2 linked regions of the Homo sapiens genome follow. The protein of the gene in region 1 interacts with the protein of each later gene in a biochemical or structural test. Each region holds a gene or a part of one and is shown on either strand. Other genes may lie near its edges. The genes, in order: TRPV4 and KAZN.

What was found.
Region 2: the proteins of TRPV4 (region 1) and KAZN interact in a test that uses a peptide from one of them, tested with the Homo sapiens proteins (one study listed by BioGRID).

Annotation. Positions count from the first base shown.
Region 1 is NC_000012.12:109,819,814-109,830,756, forward strand, and holds part of TRPV4 (transient receptor potential cation channel subfamily V member 4), read right to left. Parts: intron 7,790-10,943; exon of another isoform or gene 6,997-7,789; intron 1-6,996. UniProt on the Homo sapiens protein: Non-selective calcium permeant cation channel involved in osmotic sensitivity and mechanosensitivity. Activation by exposure to hypotonicity within the physiological range exhibits an outward rectification.
Region 2 is NC_000001.11:14,593,233-14,604,124, forward strand, and holds the start of KAZN (kazrin), read left to right. Parts: upstream 1-5,452; 5' UTR 5,453-5,750; coding exon of another isoform or gene 5,751-5,765; coding exon 5,766-5,991; intron 5,992-10,892. UniProt on the Homo sapiens protein: Component of the cornified envelope of keratinocytes. May be involved in the interplay between adherens junctions and desmosomes. The function in the nucleus is not known.

The sequences.
Region 1 (10,943 bases):
GGCCTCCCAAAGTGCTGGAATTACAGGCATGAGCCACTGCGCCCAGCCAAAGTAGCGGTTTTTGAATATGTTGGTTTTAAATCCTATATATTCAAAAGCAGGTTTATATTCAAACTCTTCTTTAGAATATATATACTGAATGGTGGTCCACACAGAGATGGCAGTTGTGTAGGATGGACAAAGAATCTGCATCTTCCTCTGGAAAGGGCCCAAGGGGCAGCAGTAGAAGCCAGCTACCTATTTATTCCACACATTTATTGAGCACCTACTATGTGCCAGGCACTGTGCTAGACTAGGGACACAGATGTGAACAGAACAGATATCAATCCCTTTGGGGGCAGACCTTCTGGTGGGGAAACAATAAACTAGACAAATCAAGCAGCAGAGTCATGTCGGATGGTGTTAAGAACTGCATAGACCAGAAGGGCTCAGGAGTGGGCAAGTTAAGGGGTGCAGGAGTCCTGAGTAGGGTGATGAGATACAGGGCTGAGCCAGGGTCCCCAGACCTTCCTTTCTGCCCTAGACAGAGACCCCAGGCTTTCCAGAAACCTGGCTTTCTGCTCTCATGGCCCCCTGAGCCGGTGGGGCACATTTTGACGTCAGGCAGACCAGAGGGTCAGATCCCAGACCCACAGCTCACTTGCTGGGTGAGTATGAGCAAGTTACCCAACCTCTCTGATCTTCACTTTCTTCAGCTGCCCTATTTTTTTTTTTTTTTTTTTTTTTTTGAGACGGAGTCTCCCTCTGTCGCCTAGGCTGGAGTGCAGTGGCGCATCTCCACTCACTGCAAGCTCCGCCTCCCGGGTTCACGCCATTCTTCTGCTCAGCCTCCTGAGTAGCTGGGACTACAGGCACCCGCCACCACGCCCGGCTAATTTTTTGTATTTTTTTAGTACAGACGGGGTTTCATGGTGTTAGCCAGGATGGTCTCGATCTCCTGACCTCGTGATCCGCCTGCCTCAGCCTCCCAAAGTGCTGGGATTATAGGCGTGAGCCACTACGCCCGGCCCTCAGCTGCCCTATTAAGGGATCGTAATAGGGTCGTTGTGAGAGGTATATACCTTGAGTCAAGTGCCTGGCATAAAGAAAGCCTCAATAAACAGCAGATTGCACAACAGATGGCTTCTCTCTGAGAATCCCGGATTCAAAGGCGGTGGAGGTCTCTGGCTCCGTCCCCATGCCCCAACTTGCGGAGGGTGGAAAAAGGGGCCCATCCTCGGGGTTACCCGCGGCTTTGCCTGATCTCATGGAAACCCTGGCAAACATTTGTCAAATCCCATCCTCCTGATTACGTGACCAAGGAAAGCTGCTTAAATCTGGGGGCAAGTTTGGGCATGCAAACCTGCTCCGCCCCAGCGGGGAGGAATCCAGGGAGCTGGTTTCTCCCGGTTCCCTCCCTTCTGGAATCAATTCATTCCACCAGGCATCAATGCAGTGGCACCTGTTTGCAGGGCACAGGGGAGACATAAAAGTGTGGAACCTCAGAGAACTCGCAGTCCAGGAGGGAAGGCTGATGGCTCTCTCTGCCTCCAGGCCTTTGCCTAGGCTGTTCCCTCCGCCTGGAATGCCCTTCCCTTCGCTGGCTGGCTCCCACTTACTCCTCAGGCCTCATGTTAAAGGGCACTTCCTCTGAAAAGCCCTCCTGTTTCCCCTGCTCTTTACTCTTAGAGTAACATGTGCCTTCCTTTACAGCACTTCCCACGATTAAACTTTTCTATATATGTATTTTTTTTTTCAAGAGAGTCTCGCTCTGTCCCCCAGGTTGGAGTGCAGTGGCATGATCTCAGCTCACTGCAACCTCCGCCTCCTGGGTTCAAGCAATTCTCGTGCCTCAGCCTCCTCGAGTAGCTGGGATTACAGGCATGCACCACAACACCCGGCTAATTTTTCGTATTTTTAGTAGAGGCAGGGTTTTGCCATGTTGGTCAGTCTGGTCTTGAACCCCTGACCTCAGATGATCCACCTGCCTCAGCCTCCCAAAATGTTGGGATTATAGGTGTGAGCCACCGCACCCGGCCTATATATTATTCTTTGATTCATCTTCTCTCTTCACCTCCAGAGTTTTAGTTCCATGTGGTAGGGACTATTTCGTGTCCCCTGTGTCCCCAGCATTCAGCATGGTGCTGAAGCAAAATGAGGTGTCAATGAATATTTGGTTTTTTTAGGCTGTAAGATCAGGGACCTGAAGTTCCAGGCAGGGTTGCAGAGCAAGGGCAGCCAGAATCCTGATGGGGAGGGGGAAAGGCTGTGAGGAGGAGGAGGAGGAAGATAAAGGGCAGAGGAGGTGTCAAGGACAAAGGTGTAGAGGGGAAAGTGCAGGGTGCACAGAGGAATGGTGTGGCCTGGGGCACAGGGAGAAGGAAAGCAGAAGAGATGGGTGAGTGGGTGGGCAGTGGGGAGGTGGGTGGGGGTTGGAATCCATGGGTAGGAAGGAGCCCACAGAGAAGGTGCTCAGGCTCCCAGACAGACCCAGTGTGCTTCTACCTCCCTCCACCCTGGGGCTCCTTAGCCAATTTGGGGGCCCCCACTTCCTGTGGTACCCTCAAATAAACACAACTGTGAGTGCCTGCCATTCCAAATCAGTCTTGCCGGGGACATGTGGATAGGAAGGTACTAGGAAGACAAGGACTCTGAGCTTTGCTGTTACTAGAGAGAAAATCCCAGACCTGTCCACCCCCTCCCCACCTTCCAGGTAAGAAAACTGAGGCTCAGAGAGGCGAAGTCATTTGTCTGGCATTGCCTTGCTCCAGAAAGGGGGAGGCAGGATTAGAACCCATGCATCCCCGGGACCTGCGCCTTTGATGGACACTTTACAAAGACAAGGGAACTCTGGGAGGGAGAAGCTGGAGAAAGAATGGAGTGGGGGATGGGTCGCAGTCCCTGACGAACCACCAGTTCACCAGCTCTGGGCAAGTCACCTGGCCTGCCCATGCCTCGGTTTCCTCACCTGAAAAATGGCAATGATCCTAGCACCTACCCCAAGGGAACTGTCGTGAGGGTTACATGAGATAAAGCATGCAAAACACTGAGCCCAGTGCCTGGTACAGAGCATGCATTCAGTCAAGCATGGCTGCTGTTGGAATCATCAGTATCAGTGTACTATTTATTAGTATCATTAGGGGAACAGATGAACAAAAGGACTGAGGACCAAGGAAGGCAATGACTCCTAGAGAAGGCAGAGCGGCCAGATCCAGAGCCTTGGAGGTAGACTCTGGCAGCCACCTCGAAGTGGCGGCTGCTGGGAACAGCCGGCTGGGAGCTCAACTCCTTGGCCAGGCGAAACCTACTGCCTGCCAGGCTACCCCACGGCTCCCAGGCACTTGGCAGGCGGCAGCAGTAGGGGGGCATCATGCCATGCCCAGCACCTTCCCTGGCCAGCCTGTATTTACCTAGCAGGTCTCGGCCCAGCCCGCTTCCTGTTTGCTGCACAGTGGCCGCCTGTCCAGGACAGACAGAGCCCCAGTGTCCTGCTGGGCCCCCACCCCATGCACTCACACCACCCAGGCAGGGCAGGTCTGGGGTGACTCACCGCGCCCCACGGAGGGCAAGGCCAGCGTGGCCACGGCAGTCATTTGGTCATTCTGCAAGCCCTTGGCTGGAGGGAGGCCGGCTGACAGCACACACAGATGCCCCTCTGAGCTTTCACAGGGACCAAGTCATTTCCAAGGGTCCCGGCCCCTGGGTAGGAGCCACCAAGAAGCGGTGTGGCTTAATGGTTAAGAGCATGCACCTTGTAGACACAAAAGGCCACATATTGCAGGATTCCATTTATATGAAATGCCCAGAACAGGCAAATCCACAGAGACAGAAAGCAGATTAGTTGTTGCCAGGGGCTGGGAGTGGGGAGTGGTGACTGCTAATGGGTACAGAGTCCTTTTTTGGGGTGATGAAAATGTTCTGGAATGAGATAGTGCTGATGTCTGTACAACTCTGAATACACTAAGAAACCAACTGAATTGTACGTTTTAAAAGACTGAGTTATGAGTATGTGAATTACATCTAAATGACCCTTCCAGGCTTAGTGACCTCAGGCAGGTCACTTCCCTCCCAGAACCTCAGTTTCCTTGTTGCAACATGGGAATGTCATGGAGATTAAGCACACATAAAGGGTTTCTTTTTTTTCTTTCTTGTGTGTGTGTGTGTGTGTGCGCATGTGTGTGTGACAGAGAGAGACAGGATCTTGCTCTGTCACCCAGGCTAGAGTATAAGTGGCACAATCTTGGCTCACTGCAACCTCCGTCTCCCAGGTTCAAGCAATCCTCCTGCCTCAGCCTCCCAAGTAGCTGGGATTACAGGTGCCCACCGCTGCGCCAGCTAATTTTTGTATTTTTAGTAGAGACGGGGTTTCACCATGTTGGCCAGGCTGGTCTCGAACTCCTGACCTCAGGTGATCCGACCGCCTCGGCCTCTCAAAATGCTGGGATTACAGGCGTCGGCCACCGTGCCCAGCCACATAAAGGGTTTCAAACAAGGTCTGGCACGTAGTAGGAGCTCAAGGATACAAAGTCACTACCCCAGGAGGCTCCAGGTCCTTCTTCCCTTATCTCGCTTCCTTCCCATCAGAGCATAGCCCCAGGATTCCACCCTCTCAGCCAGCCCTGCTTGAGAACATGCTACTCAGCTCCAGCCCAGGAGGAGGGAGGCATCAAATTCTTAGTCCGGCCGGGCGCAGTGGCTCACGCCTGTAATCCCAGCACTTTGGGAGACCGAGGTGGGCGGATCACTTGAGGTCAGAAGTTCAAGACCAGACTGGCCAACATGGTGAAACCCCATCTCTACCAAAAATACAAAAATTAGCCGGGTGTGGTAGCATGCACCTGTAATCCCAGCTACTCGGGAGGCTGAGGCATGAGAATCTCTTGAACCCAGGAGGCAGAGATTGCAGTGAGCAGAGATAGCACCACTGCACTCCAGCGGGGGCGACAAGAGCGAGACTCCATCTCAACAAAACAAAACCTTAGGCCCGCCTTCTCTCTGGCCTAGCCCCTCTCCTAGAGGATGGTCACAGCCACGGAGAACTCCAGAGAGGATTCTATAGTCTGAGAACGTTGCCTGATCAATGCTTTACATCTCATCTGCCACTCACTGGCTGTATGGTCTTGCACAAGTCACATCTCATCTCTGGGCCTTGGTTTCCTTATCTGTAAAATGGGAGTAATAATTACTACGACCTGGGTGGGGTTAAGCCGTATTTGCTCCATAGTTATTTGGTGTATAGCACATTCATGCTTTAAACTAAAAAATAAGGCTGGGTGCAGTGGCTCACACCTGTAATCCCAACACTTTGGGAGGCCAAGGTGGGAGGATCGCTTGAGCCCAGGAGTTCGAGACCAGCCTGGGCAAAATGGTGAGATCCCATCTCTACAAAAAATAAATAAATTTATTTATTTTTTAAAATATTAAAAAATAAAATAACAGCTCCTACCCCAAAGAGCTATTGTGAGGATTAAATGTGATAATTCAAGCCTTCAGTGCAGTGCCCAACAAACACCAAGTGTTCAATGAACTTGAACTTATTTTTTAGTTTAAAGCATGAATGTACTGTATACCAAATAACTATGGAGCAAATACAGCTTAACCCCACCCAGGTCGTAGCAATTATTACCCCCATTTTACAGATAAGGATGTTCAATGGCTGCTTTGCCATTCTTGCTAACATTCCCTCAGTTTGCAGTGGGAGGTGGGGGATGATGACATTGAGGTCCAGGGAGGTCAGAACTGGGCAGGCACTGGAACCCAGACTTCCCGGCTCCAAAACCAGGGCTCGTGACTGCAGAGACCTCACCTTTGGAAAGGGTTTCCTCGCCACCTCATTTCCATCTTCTGTCACCTTTAGAAGGCTGTCAGGACAAGGGCTGCCTCCCAGCTGGGAGACTAAGGACCAGAAGGGACAGGACACTCGTCCATGCATACGTTCCTCTACCCCACTTCTAGGAGCAAAAGTCCCGAGTTTGCCAAATCAGAGGAGGGGGAAGAGGGCAGGTGCCCGTTATGAGTGGATGGGGCAGGAGTCGGGGAAGGGAGCCCAAGGCAGCAGAAAACCAGTTTGAGATCCTTCCTCTGTCCCAGCCCACCTCAACACCAGTCTGTGCCAACAGTAAGCTGCTGCCTCAGGGGTTAACTGCTTGGAATTATGACTGAGGCTAATGCCTGCAATGTACCATCAGTAATGCCTACCCTCCATGGCACACTTCACACAGCACCTCCCATTTGGTTGTTTTTTGTTTTGAGACAGGGTATGGCTTTGTCACCCAGGCTGGAGTGCAGTGGCACAATCATAGCTCACTGCAGCCTCGACCTCCCAGGCTCAAGCAATCCTCCCACCTCAGCCTCCCCAGAAGCTGGGACCACAGGCATGTACCACCATTCCTACTTTTAAAATTTATTTTTTGTAGAGATGGAGTCTCACTCTACTGCCCAGGTTAGTCTCCAATGCCCGGGCTCACGTGATCCACACACCTTGGCCTCCCAAAGTGTTGTGATTACAGGCGTGAACCACCATGGCTGGCCCCTTCTATCTATTTTAATCCAAATAATAACTATAGACATTAAATATTATTGTCTCCATTCCCAGATGTATAAAGTCAGTCCCGGGGGAAAGGAGGTAAGGGCTGACATTTATCCAATACCTATCATATGCTAAGCACTTTCACATTTCTCTCTCATTTGAGGTCGGTGTTATTGTTATCATTTCACAGATGAACAAACTGAAGATCAGAAAGAATGAGATTTAACTGAGTCCACAACGCTACAGGAAGTGAATGTGGCTAGACTTCCAACCATCTGCTTTTAAATCCATTTGAGTTCATTCATCCCTTTGGGGGCTACCATGCCCTCTCCCTAGGACCCCCCTTCTCAACGCCATATCCCTTGGAACTCAGCAGGACAAGATGGCACAGTGGTGACAGGCTTGGAGTCTGAATCTTGACTTTGCCATTTAGTAACTGCGTGGCCCCAGACGGATCACTTGACCTCTCCGAGCTTCAGTTTCCTCACCTGTAAAAGGGAGCTCATCACAGTTCCCACTGCTGGATTACTTGTCATTGTGGGTATCAGAGTCTCACAAAGTGGCCTCAAAGCACTGCGTGTGGAATGATGTCACTCGGACAAAAGCTCTAGGGCGGAGGGACTCCCTTCTGGTAACTGCTGAGGCCCAGATGCCTGGAACAGGTCCTGGCACATAGCAGCTGCTCAAGATGTATTTGCTGGATGAATGAATGAATGAATGAATGAACAGAGGAAAGGAGTGAAAGACGGGCTTAGTCATTCTCTCCAGGGCAGACAGGTCTCCAAAGCGAACCTCTGCCCAGCTAACTAATTAGCTTCCTCCCATCCATTTTTTAACAGACAGCTTACGGAGCACCTGCTATGTGTGGGGTTTTCTGGCCTATAAGACCAACACCTCTCATGAGGACAACTATCGTGAGCCCATTTTATAGATGAAGAAATTGAGGCTCAACAAGACCAGGACACTCACTCAAGCACACTTGGTCTCAGAGCCAGAGCCTGTATCTGAGCAGGTGCTTCCTTCTGATGCCCTGCCTGGCTGGCTTGTCCAGTCACTCATTCCTTCCTTCATTCATCCCTTCACTCTATCTACAGGTATTCCTGAGCCCCTCCTGTGTGCCAAGCAGGGACAGGAGTGAGCCAGACCCATGGGTCAGTCAACCCCATGCCCCCTGTCCCACCCTCACCTGCTGGGGTCTCAGCCCAAAGCCCATGGAACCCACCCTCCATAAACACACACACACACACACACTACACACAAATACATATACACATTACACACATATACACATACATACACACAATATACACACATACATACATATACACGCAAACATACACACACATACACACATGCACACATAGACATTCACATACACACATACACATGTATATACATACACATATGCACACACATACACACAGACATACATATACACACATACACACATATATACACAAACATACACATAAACATATAGTCATACATATACACACATACACATATATACACATATACACATACACATATAGACATACATATACACACATACACATACACACACAGACACACATACGCACATACACACGCACATCAATATACACACACATACACACGTACACAAACACACACACAGGGAATGGTCCCAGAAGGTGGCCAGCCCACTCGGTCAACCGGGTGGAACCCAGGCCACTCCACCCTCAGGGGAAAACGGGCGCCTGGTGAGACTGAGGAGCTCTTTGTGCAAGGGGCAGGGTGGGTGGACAAGAGGGGCTGCTGTTACTCACTAACCAAAGAAATAGAAGGATATTCCCGTTTGGTCAATGGCCCGCCTGTCTGTCCCCTGAGCCCCCGCCTCCTTCTGTGGCCTTTCCAATGCCCTGACCTCATCTGGAGACCGGCAAGGGCTTCCTGTGCGCCTGGTGTGGTCTCGTGTGATCCTCCCTCACCGATGAGGAAACATGCTCAGAGAAGTGATGTAACCTCCTTGGGGTCACACAGCCGGCAGTGGCCAGGGCTCGGGGCAGAAAGGGGAAACCAATGCTCAGGAAGGGGCTAGGGGTGGGAAGGAAGTCAGAGTCACATTGAAAGTGAGGCCCTGTCCCTTCCTCATTCCTGTCCGGCCACTGGGGTGCCAGCTCATGGGCTGCAAGGGCACCCGAGGTTGAAGGAGCCCAGGCCAGAACAAGAGCAGCAGCCAGAATAACCCAAATCCCTCCTCAAGTTGGCAGAGCTCTGACCTCAGCAAAGCCCAGGAACAGAGAGCTTAAGCCACTTTCTGAGGTCACAGAGCAGCAACTGGCGGAGCTGGGAGGTAAGCTAAGGTGGCTCAGACGCCAAGGTGGGTGAGCCTAGCGTAGCTTTCCACGCAAGAAGCTAAGCTGGCCACTGGGCTTTTCGTGGACCCAAGGACACCAGTGTCACTCAGATCTGGCTTCCAGCTCCAGCTCTGCCATGAGCCAGCTGGGCATCCCTGGGTAAATTGCTTCCTCTCTGAGTCTCGATTTCCTCAGCTGTAAAATGGGGCTCAGCATTCCTGCCCCTGCCCACCCCCGGCAGTGGGGAAGCTGTGACACCATCAAAATGAACATCAGCCCTCACACCTGTAATCTGAGCACTTTGGGAGGCCAAGGCAGGAGGGTTACTTGAGCTCTGGAATTCCAGACCAACCTGGGCAACATAGTGAGACCCCTGTCTGAAAAAAACCTTTTTTTTTAATAAGCTGGGTGTGTCCCAACTACTTGGGAGGCTGAAGTAGGAGGATCTCTTGAGCCCAGGAGTTCGAGGCTGCTGTGAGCTATGATCACACCACTGCATTCCAGCCTGAGCAACAGACTGAGACCCTGTCTCTAAAAATAATAAATAAAAAAAAAAGTGAACAACAGGCAATAGATGCTGGTTTTAAACTAAACACTCAAGGTTGTGCTGAAGACTGTCCACAACCTCCCAGCAAGGCAGGCATTACCTTATCCCCATTGTCCAGATGAGGAAACTGAGGCCAAAGGAATAATGGAACTTATTGGAAGCTGGGATTTGAACCTGGGCAGCTGGGCTCCAGCCCTAGTTTTTAAGCATTAAATCAGGAAAGTAAAAAAAGTTGACAGCTCCTGGCACTCAGTCAATGCTCATAAATATTTCATTGCTGAAAACATATCATTATTTGCCCAAATGCAAGTCTAGCTTTGCCCCCAATACCTTCCACCCACCCACCTGGCATGGAGGGGCTCTCTGAGGATGTCTGGGGGATAAGCTGGAAGAAAACATGCCCTGGAATGGGCCTGGGGACAAGGGGAGCTGACACGGGCTGAGGCAGAAGAGCTGTGCTTCAGAGCCCCATCCACGTGCCTTGGGTCATCCCTGCAAAGTGGGATGAGAGTCCCTTTGACACAGGAGGAAATGGAAGCCCAGAGAGGCCAGGTGGCTTCCCTGAGCTCCTCCAGCGGGGAATAGCAGGCCTGTCTTAAACATGCGGATGCAGTTTAAGCCCAGGCCTGTCTGCAGTTCAGGCTCTTTGTTTGTTTTGAGACAGGATCTCTTGCTCTGGACTGCAGTGGCACAATCGCAGTTCACTGCAACCTCTCACTCCTGGGCTTAAGCGATCCTCCCACCTCAGCCTCTCAAGTAGCTGGCACTACAGGTGCGTGCTACCACGTTCGGCTAATTTTTGTATTTTTTCTAGAGACAGAGTTTCACCATGTTGCCCAGGCTGGTCTCAAACTCACGGGCTCGACCGATCCACCTGCCTTGGCCTCCCAGAGTGTTGGGATTACAGGTGTGGGCCACTGCACCCGGCCAACTCAGGTTCCTATCTCTGGACTGCAGAGTAGCTCCCCCATGACCCCAGGCACCCCAATGAGGGTCCAGACAAATGGGGACGGGCCACCTTACAGGTGAAGGGATGGATTTGCAATCACACAAATGGGATTCAGGTCCCAGCTCTGCCCCTTCTCAGCTGAGAGAACCCAGGCAAGAGATTTCACCCTCTAGACCTCATTCTGCCCTCTGAAAAATAGAGACAAAAATAGTTTTGTATCCAAATGTGCTGAGGGTGCTTGACTCAGTGCTTGGCACACAGTAAGTGCTCAATAAAGGCTTGCCACCATCATAATAGTTGTTAATGCAACCCAGGGTTGGCTAAAGCCAGACAGAACCTTGTACCCAGAGTTCATAACAGCAGCCACTTATCTCAAGAGATCGGAATTAATCTTTAACAGGTGAATTCTGCTCCAAATGGGCGATGTGGAGCATTCCAGAGGGCCCACTGGCATGAAATAAATGTTATCTTGGCTCCCCAGACCCTATCTGTGACAACAAGAGGAGCTGTTACCTGGGTCCCTATAATTTGGAGAACGGACTGGAGTGTCTTTCCCAAAGTCAAATGGGGGAAACTGAGGCAGACAGCAGGGTCAAGGGCCTGCATGGAGTAGAGACACCC
Region 2 (10,892 bases), on another chromosome or scaffold:
GGGTTTTAATGAGAGTAGCGAGAATATTTGTGGATATGAATTTGTAGGGGACAAGGAAGATGAATTTGTTCAATCAACCACAAACTCTTTGGAGAAGCATCTATCACACCAGACAGGGGGAGCAGAAAGCAGAATGGGATATAAACCCTGCCTTCCTGAGGCTCACGGTCTGGCTCATTGGGTACATGCGGGGGAGGGACGGAGTAGTTTTAGCCAGGGCATTTTACTGCATGCAATAGAAATAATCAAATTAGCTCAAGAAAAGGGCATTTATTCTTGGGAATTCCATGGAATCCAAGACAAAGAAGAATAAGCAGGATTGTTTTGGAAACCCCAGGAGTTTAAAGACCTTCACCCCAGGGAGCCAAACTCTTGGGGACTTATCTCTCAAATCCTTCAGTCTGTATTTCAAATTCCCAAATAAATAAACAGAACAATAACCAATGGCCATATACGCTATGAAATAAGTAAATGTTGAATGTTAAATCTGAGGGATGAAAAGGAATCAGATGCAGAGAGCCAGGGGGAGAATGTTCCAGGGAGAGGCAAGGGAAAAGGCAAAGACCTTGAGGTCAGAAACAATTAAGTGGCAAGAGAGTGGTGAGCAAGTGGTGTGGTGCAAGAAGTCAGTGGCCAGTTTATGCAAGGCTGTGGGTGTAATTTAGGAAGTGCCACGTGACACACATCAGTGGAAAGATGGGCCATTTTCTGAAGACCCTGGTTAAATTCTTCCCAGCCCCTTCACTGACAAAGCTGCGTGGTTCATTCCTAAATCTGGGGTCTCTCTTTCTCTGTCTGTAAATAAGGAGGGCACTAGAGTAGACAATCCCCATTGCCTTCTAGGACCAAATAGCGTCATTCAATCATAGAGTAGGGCAACCATATATACTGGGTTTCCTGGGACAATTCCTATGTATGCCACTTGTTTTAGCTTAATTCAATTACTCATTGCGCCCTCTTTTGCTCTCAGCAGCATCCCAGTCTTGACGTTATATTATGAGGTCACTCTATTTCTGGGAAAAGGGAGGTGCATACGGCTGTGCTGTCAGCAATGGGTTAGGCCCTTAGCCTTGATTCTTGATAGGAATTTCCTTTCTCTGAGCTACAGGGAAGCTGGTTTTGCAGACTTTTCAAAATACCCAGGCAAGCTTTGATGGGCAACAAACACACACGGCACAGTTGGCTTATTCTGCTCAGAAAGATCAGACAATGTACGTAGAGGCTGGTGACCACATATGAGCCGAGGCCTGGACCTTGGATGGGGTTGGGCTGGTTGAGAGTGATAGCAGCAGTGACAGTGGAAAAATGATAGCAAGTCCCTATGAAGTGGACCCATTTTCTGTCTTGGTTCTTAACATCAGCCTACTGGGGTGTGAGATTGGGACTATTTGGGGAACACGCAAAAGGGGGAACCCTGAAACAGAACCCACAGTACTGCCAAATTCTCATAGCTGTGAATCCCATGGAGAGACAGCTGTGGATGACAGACTTCTCTGGAATCCTTCTCCCAACAGTTTGCAGGTGTGTCCCAGGACACCGGCGGTAAACGCCTATCAGCCCCCATAGACAGGCAAATGGGCTTGCAGGAGGGGGTTAGGCCAGTGGGAGGGGACACAGATTCCGCTGACCAACTGGACCAACCAAGGCACTTAGAACTGCTTGGTGTAACTTTGGGAGGCCAAGGCAGGTGGATCACAAGGTCATGAGTTCAAGAGCAGTCTGGCCAAGATGGTGAAACCCCGTCTCTACTAAAAATACAAAAATTAGCCAGGGGTGGTGGTGGGCACCTGTAACCCCAGCTACTCGGGAGGCTGAGGCAGAGAATTGCTTGAACCCGGGAGGCAGAGGTTGCAGTGAGCCAAGATCACACCACTATGCTCCAGCCTGGGAGACAGACCAAGACTCCATCTCAAAAAAAAAAAGAACTGCTTAGTATATCTGCAAACCAGGATTCAGTTCTTTGTAGTCTTTCAGTTACCTTATGGGGGGGCAGCATCAAAACTACAGAGCTGTGTGGGTCTTGAAAAGGGGGATGCCGTGGTGCAGCCATTGTGGAAAACATATTAGCTGTTCCTTGAAAAGTTAAACATAGCAACCGTTTTGTTCCTTGAGGTCACCTCCGGAGGAGCGGTGGTAAAGCCTGGGGATAAGAAACGTAGACCCGGCCGAGCGCTGTGGCTCACGCCTGCAATCCCAGCACTTTGGGAGGCCGAGGCAGGTGGATTGCTTGAGGTCAGGAGTTCGAGACCAACCTGGCCAACCTGGTGAAACCCTGTCTCTACTAAAAATACAAAAAAAAATTAGAGGGGTGTGGAGGCCTGCACCTGTAATCGCAACTACTCAGGAGGCTGAGGCAGACAATCCCTTGAACCCAGGAGGCGGAGGTTGCAGTGAGCTGAGATGGCGCCACTGCACTCCAGCCTGGGCGACAGAGCAAGACTGCGTCTCAAAAAAAAAAAAAAAAAAGAAAAAGAAAAAGAAAGAAAAAAGAAAGGTAGACCTTTTTGGTTTAAATCAAGTATACCCGCAGAGGCTAATTGATTGCAGACTTTCTATCTAAGATCTAGTCCTTTGGTGTGTGGGTGAACATAAGGACACACAACTGGAAAAAGCCCCTTTTTTTCATGTTAGGAAAAAAAACTCTCAAAAAATAAAATTCTTAAAATCCTAGGAGGCACCCCAGGAGTTTCTAAAGCAGCTTCTTGAAACCTCAAAAATAGAGGGATGAGAAGGGGCTCAAGGAATGAGTCTTTTCTTTTCTCCTTATTAGATTTTTTTGTTTTGATTTGATTTGAAGATTCCGGTGTGTGGGAATAATCTCACTGAAGAGCAAAATGAGTAACACTGGGTCACTTTGTTTACTACACAAACACACTCACACGCATTCATTTACAGAACACTTACTACGGGCTAGGGCGGCAAGGACGCAAAGATGAATGACATAAAAAGCCGGATAACCCTCCTTCCCCCACCCACAAGTTCCCAGTGAAGTGGGAGAGAGACATATAAACAGATAAATTACTGTTTCTTCTGCTGAGTGCTATACCAGAGGTGTGAGTGCACGCACACGTGTGCGCACACACACACACACACACACACACACACGGCCCTCTAAATAGAGCTACTCTTAACTGTTTGCTCAGAAGCCCTAGTTCCAAAACATTCCCATCCTCTCTATTTGTGTATTTGCATATATGACTTTTTGATTGAGGTAAAATTTACATAACATGAAATTAAGCCCTTTAAAGTGAACAATTCAATGGCACTTAGTACATTCACCGTGTTGTGCCACCACCACCTCTGTCTAGTTCTAAAACATTTTCATCAGTCAGCACAAAGTAACACCCGGCACCTATTAAGCAGTTACTTCTCATTCTTCCCTCCCCACAGCCCCTGACAAACACCAATCTGCTTCCTGTTTCATGGATTTATTTATTCTGGATATTTCATATAAATTGAATCGTATAATATGTGACCTTCTATGTCGGGCTTCTTTCAACTAACATAATGTTTTGGAGCTTCATCCACGTAGTAGTAGCATGTATCAGTACTCTTCACGGCTGAGTAATATTCCATTGCATACTGCAATTTGTTCATCCAATCATCTGTTGATGGACATTTGGGTTATTTCTGCCTTCTGGCTACTAATGAACAGTGCTGCTATGAACATTCATGTACAAATTTTTGTTTGGATATTTGTTTTGGACATATACCTAGGAGTGGATTTGCTGGGTCGTATGGTAATCCTATGTTTAACTGTTCAAGGAACTGCTAATATGTTTTCCACAATGGCTGCACCACGGCATCCCCCTTTTCAAGACCCACACAGCTCTGTAGTTTTGATGCTCTCCCCATAACGTAACTGAAAGACTGCAAAGAACTGAATCCTGGTTTGCAGATACACTAAGCAGTTCTAAGTGCCTTGGTTGGTCCAGTTGGTAAGAACTTGTGTTAATGAGGTTAAGGTCAGGGTTCGATCCCCGAACTGACCCATTAGCTGAGCAGAGCGGACAGAGTGAAGAATTGTGTCTTCCTGCCACATGCTCCACCATCAAATCCTGCCCTCTTGCAAAAGCTTGTTAGTGGTCACAGGGGAATGGAGCAAGACTGTTTTTATGGTTCCACAGAAAAGGGGGGAGAAATCTATCATCCAAGGCCTCCTGAAGGCGCAGCAGGAGGAACTTGCAATCAGATGATTACTTTCTTCCAGTCCCGCTGTCACCTGGTTTCTGCGGGCCCCTTAAGTAAATTGCTTAACCCTATGCAGAGCCTCAGTTTCCTTATCCCTAAAATGGGAATAATAATCCTCACTCACAAGAGATAAGAATGCATATAAAAGCACTCTACACGCAGTTTTTGCTTGGTTCTTATGGGCTTCCTGTAAGAACCTGAAGGGTGGGCAGCCTCATTTTTCCTCGCAGCACCCCACTGGCTTCTGCAATCTGCTCTTTGCTGCTCTCCGGAGGTTGACTGAGCTGGAATGATGGCGCCCTGTTGACCAGAGGGTTGCTGGCTGTTTTAAATTGTCCTATTTGCATGGAATGAAGTTTGCTATGGTAACAAGGTCTGGTGGCTGGAATCCAGGGCCCCAGTGAAAAATGCAAAGCCTGTGGTCTGGGAGAGAAAGAGGAGCTGGAGAGGGCATATCAACGTCAGGTTACCTCAGTTCTTCTGTGAAGAGGGGATGGGTAAACTGAGGCAGCAGGGCTCAACTCTTCTGCTCCCAGTAGAAGAAAGGGAAGAAGCCCCATCGACGCCTTCCTTCTTATCTCTCAACCTCATCTCTGTCCCCGCCAATATTCAGCCCGGCTAAGAAGCTTAGGAGCTGGCTAAGGCTGCTCCTCCACCTGGATGCACACACAGGGCTAGGGCTGTGGAGAGGCGGGAGCACCAGCGGCCCACGCCGAGGAAGATAGGCGCTCCCTCCTGGGGTGGGCAGCGCAGGTCTGGCCTGCGGGTGGGGGGTGGAGAGTGAGAGGCACGCGGGGCACCAGCTCAGCTCCCCTCTGGGGATTTCGTACTCGCAGTTTAAGGAACCGGTGGAGCACGAACTCCACTCCTGAGCTGGCGCAAGCGTCTCCCTTCCATGGAGATCCACCCCGGCTCCCCTCTGAGGCCCCCTTTCCAAGCACCCTCTCTTCCGAGCACCCAGCACCTCCCCAACCTTAGCACGGCTCGGGGCACCAGTTCTCCAGGGCGGGGGCTGCCCCACCGCTCAAGGGAGGGGACAGAGGGCCGGCCTCGGTCCAGGCGACCCCTGCCCCTCGCCAGGGGCGCCACCTTGGCCCCCTCCCGACTGCCGTCCGCCGCCTCCGCCCCCCCGGGGGGTGTGTCTCCGAAGTACGGGGGCGCGGGAGGCCAAGGGTGCCCCCAGCCTCCGACCGAGACCCCCTCCCGAGCCGGCGGCGAATGGTAGGCTCCATTTAAAGAGTGCCTGGTGGCGCGCGGTGTCCTTCTTGGAGCAGCTCTCGGCGCCCGCCCGCCGGGGTCTCGGCGATCGCTGCTCCTCCTCCTCCTTCTCCTCCTCTTTTTTCTCCTCCGCCTCCTCCCCCCGCCGCCTCGCCACCGCCGCGGCTAGGGCTGGAGGCGCCGCTGTCATTCCTGTGCCGGAGGAACCGGCGCTGCCGGTGCCTGGGGGTCGGGGCGCGGGCGAAGCCGGGCCGCGGAGGACACAACAGGTAGAGCCGGGGGTGCCCGGCCGCGCGCCCCCCGCGCATCATGCAGCTCTTTGTCACCTCTCTCGCCCCCAGGCCAAAATCCTGAGCATGATGGAAGACAATAAGCAGCTCGCGCTCCGCATCGATGGGGCGGTCCAGTCGGCCAGCCAGGAGGTGACCAACCTGCGAGCCGAACTCACGGCCACCAACCGGAGACTGGCGGAACTGAGCGGCGGCGGCGGCCCCGGCCCGGGCCCGGGAGCCGCGGCCAGCGCCTCGGCGGCGGGGGACTCGGCGGCGACGAACATGGAGAACCCCCAGCTTGGAGCGCAAGGTAGGATCGCCCCGGCGCCCAGGGCGGAGGAAGGCGAGCAGAGCACGCCCGGCCTCGGAGGTGGCCGGGGACCCGGGGTCCCCCACACCCGGGGCGAAATCGCTTTGCATTCTGGCTTGTAACCCTTTCCGCCCGGCGGTGGCCACCGCTGCTCTCCGGCTGGGAGTTGCAGGCTGCTGTCATTCACGAAAACCCGAGCGCAGTGTGCACGGGGTCACACGGTCACACCGGCCCCGGCCAGCCTGAGCGAGGCGCAGCCGGCGGGTCCCTTCCGGCATCAGAAAGTGCCCTTTCCGTGGCACCAGCCCCCTAGCTCCGTGCAAACTTTTCATGCCGGGGCCTTTTCCCCACCCCCCGCAGGGGTGAATGGCACAGTTCCCCCCACTTCCTTAGGCTCCTTCCCAGAGAGAGCTCCGGGCTCTGCCGCCGTGGTTGGGATAGAGGATTGCACTGCTGTGCACTTTTCTCCGCGGATGCCAAATCCCTTGGCTCAGTTGCATCTGGACTTTATTTTCTTCTCATTTGAGGTCTCTCAGGCATTGGAATCTATAGATGCAACAGTAGATGCTCAGCTCAGCAGGGAGTTTAAATTTCCGCAAATATAAACACCGAGAGCACTTTCCAGGGGGATACTGTAGACCTCAAAGGTTGAGCGGTAGAGAAATGAAGGCTTAGGGTGGTGGGCTGCAGGGAGCCCGTTTGAAGGGACTCTGCGGTTTAGAGAAGAGGAAGAAAAAGACAGTTGGTTTGTGTTCACATTGACAGAGATTAAGCTCTGAAACCCCCTGCAAGACATAAAGGCGGATGGGGCATTCCCTAAAATGTACTGTTTGGTTTCTGTGACTTAGAAAGTAAAAGGGTAAGCAGGCTTTGGGGGATTTTTTTTTTCTTTTTGCCTAATTGCCCTTTAAGAAACAGTATCACTGGTTATTAATATCATTTGAATTGCAAATTAAACTGCTGAAATCCAGAACAGGACAGAAACAAATCTCCAGTCCATGAGGTCCACTTGTCTAAATATGTCACTTGAAGTGCAAGGTACCAATTGCTCAGTGGCTCAAAATGATTTTCTGGTTCTGTTGTCATTTCAAGAGCTTCTCTTGAGGGTTGAGAGAGTCTGTTTTCCTAAGAATCTGGTTCTCTCCATCAGTCTCTGTTTCCACCTTATCTTCCTGGGAAGGTGTGCTTTCTTTGAGGTGAGATGTGAAGCCTGCCCACGTGCAGTTTTATGTCGAATTCCAAGTCAGATCTTAACTTGGTACTCCCGGAGCCTGTTGGAAGTCTTAGGAATTGGGGGGAGTACTTTGGTAAGGAAGTAGCCATGACGTAATGGTGAGAAGGTGTTGTGGTCCTAGTGCTTGCTGCAAGCTTGACATGTGGTTATTCTTGTCATCCTTGCAATGTCATTGTGTGCGAAAGAACATTCTCCACTGGAACCTGTGCAAAAAAAAAAAAAAAAAAAAAAGACAGACTGCAAGGTAATGCTTCACTTTTTATAGGCAGAGGCTCTGCTAACATTAAAGAAATAGCTAAGAACTGGCATTTTGCTAAGAATCAAAAGCTGTATAGTAAAGGACACTGAACAATGCTCGTTTATTTCCCACTGTCTGCCCCTTTCTCCGCGAAGGAAAAGTTAAGTGGCTTTTTATCTGAGTCCTGGGTCTGGTTGTAGACTGGGCAGGCTAAGGCAGTCAACGCAGTAATGATGTCCACATGCTCAACTTGAAAACTGACATACTCGCGGATGGTTAAATTGTTGTAGTGGAGCAACAGGGGGCTGATTCCTTGTTCTTTTTTCCTACACAAATGCACAGGGCTGTGGAAATGAAAATGGCTTTTGGATCTCTTGGATATCCTTAAAAACACATAAAACCAGCAGCTCCCATACGCTCTCAGGACTGTGCCTGCCCATGTCAGTGGCTGGCTGTGGGTGGTAGGATGAAGGGTGGTCTTGATTTCTCCTCTTTGTACATTGGTATGTCTCAAAATCTTTCCTAGGGGCACTTTGTGATTTTTATAATCAGAAAATAAAATGTTCAAAGGTTTAAACTCTACTTGATTGTTGGCCGCATAACCGTCTAAACTGATATGCATTTCAACAGATGTGATGGTTGAAAAGAAAACAAGCCCCCGTATAAGTTCAGTGGGGTATCATTTACTTGTCTGTAGCAACAGTACTTGATACATTATTTAGCCTCTGTAAGTTTGGGGGATTTTTTTTTTTTGATGGGGGCGGGAGTTGTTTTTGTTTGTTTTTGTTTTTTTCATAGCCTGTGGCAGCATCCTGCTAGCACAGAAACCCTCTGCAGAGGTGGTCTGGTAGTTTCTTTTGCCATTGCTTTCATTATCCTAAAAAGAAGCCTTGAGTTCTCACACAAGTTAATTTTAAAGTGCAATTGATTGGGTTCCACTTGATTCTTCGTAATACACCTCCAGGGAGGCTCCCAGAGGCTCAGCTCCTCAGGGTTTCTGACTGTTCTTCCAAATTAGTCTTGTGTTTTCATTTTGTCTGTGTTGGTGCAGTTCAATGGGCCCAGACCCTAAGAGTGTTTAAGTGCTATTGAGTTATCAGTTTTCAAATCAAGGTTTTGAATAAAACGAGTATCTTTGCATTTCAAAATGCAACCGTGTAAGTCATCTTTTAACGAAAGGGCATTATGCACATATTAAATGCATGCTAATGTAACTTTAACAATATTAGTACAAATGGTTTTGGGAAAGAGTCACCTTTTGCTTCCTCTGCCAAGAGACTGTTAGATTCATTTTCAAATGTTTTTGTTTTTGTTTTTTAAATTCTTTTTTTAAATGAATGAAGCAAACTCATCAATCCATCATTGGCTGTTTTGTTCCAGGGATGACAACGGGCAGTAGGTAGGTTGGTATCCCCTTTTGATGAAGAAAATTTGGGTTTTCCTAGCGGGTTAATGCAGTGTGTCATTTAAACAAAATATTAACTTGGTTGGTACTCCCTGTGAGCTGGCATGGTTGCTATGTAACAGAATCTAGAAAGTGAACTGCTGAAAATCTGGGCTTTCGGCACTTCGGAGGATATTCTTTCGGAATCTGTGTTGAAAGAATTCCTGGCAGCCAGCCCATCTTGTCTCTCCCTCCTGCAACTGAGTTGGATAATCCTTAATGAGAATGCTGGCGTACAGTGCAGAGGGCGTCCGTGCAGGGTGACACATTTCAGAGCTCCAGAGGCTGCCTTTTGGGTCGGTGGGGTCACGGCAGCCTTTGACAGGTGGACAGAAGGAGGCTTGGAAAGAACAGAGCCAAGCATTTGTTCCAATTCATCTTGTTGTTGGTAGCCAGAGAAGGGATTTGTTTAAAGTAACATTTCTAAGCTGTTTTCCTCAGCATAACATCTCTGGGAAAATGTGTTTAAAATGCTTGCTGTTCTTTGAGGGGAAAATGTAGCAGTTTGTTTCTCTGAAAAAGTTTTATCAGCTGATGAATGACTAATATTAGATTCAGTTGGTTGCTTTGCTATGCATAGAACAAAACAATTAAGTGCTATGGTACCCAATTCAAATAGGTGTTAACTGTATATAACAAAATACTTAATGCCCAGTAGGATGTATGCCTACTGTCATTAGTTTTCTTTGTTAAAGAAATAATTGTATTTGTATTCCTATGCAAGTGGACGTGCTGATAGCATCTTTCTTTGGTGTGGAGGACTTCCTGCCTACTGCATTTGTTAGAAGGGGATGGAGGCAAGGGTCGGTTTCCTGTACCTTTGTACATTTCCATAAATGCGTGCAAGTTGTATTTTTCTCTCCAGGCATTAAAATAGGCTGTTACTTAAGGCCTGACAGCTCTCATCTACCATTACTACAACACTGGAAACTCTTTCGTGAAGTATAAATTACCTTTGGAGTGAATTGAATGTGTGAGTAGTCTGTGGAGACGCTAGACACTGTCGCTTTGCAAAGTAAGTTCTGTCTTTTGGCATCCCCTTCTCAATTCATTCTGCCTCTGCTCTTGTTTTCCTAAGTAGACTTTTATCTTTTTTGAGAAAGAGAATTTTCAAATGGCAGAGAGGATGGAACAAAATGTTGGGGAATCTCGGGCCTTCTGTTAGCTTGCCACTAAGTTACAGAGCTCAGCAAGTAGCCTGCGCCATGGTTTTCCAGCCAGATCAAGGGGTTAAAATAGAGTGTGTCTTTTCCTAACCTGTCATGGGATGGGGATTCAGTCTTCTCCCTGAAAATTGTCATGTGTGGTCACAAAGAGATTACTTACAGATCAGTACAGTGTGGTTGAAATTACTTATTGATTGGGGATTATTTACTATCTTTCCATTGTCTTTGGAAAATGCCTTCAAAGGACCTCTTAAGTCAAGTCTCTGATTCTGGTTAATTTCATGCTTCCATTGTGCACTTCATGATTTTTAGTGGTTTTCCAACACCTCTTTGATGCACCCCAGAAGTCTGAGCTGACCTGACTCATCTAACAGGAGCCTGGTCACATATCTTTCCAGGGTAAGGCATGATAGGCCCTCTCTCCATCCCTTTACCCTCTTACTCCTCAAGAAGACTGTTGGCACTTTTTAGGAATCCTATAGGGTTATAATGTGTGACTTCCTGGCTGCCAGTGTGTTTGTAGCAGATGGGCTTGGCAGGTGGCAAGAGCTCATTGGAACTTTGCCTGCTCACCGTGCATATCATATGGGGCCCAGAAGGTCAAGCTTGGGATTTGGCCACATTCACTGCATGTTTTCTTTATGTATTATAAATCTATATATTCATTCCTGGGCTATGTAGGTAAGGACAGTGAAATCAACACGAACTCCTCTGTTCTTTCCATACCTTAATGGTTTGCCTGAACATTGGTCCCTGGCTTCTTACCCCCTGCCATATATCAGGGGGTTCTGCCTGCTGAGCCCAGAGAATGGGTTTTTA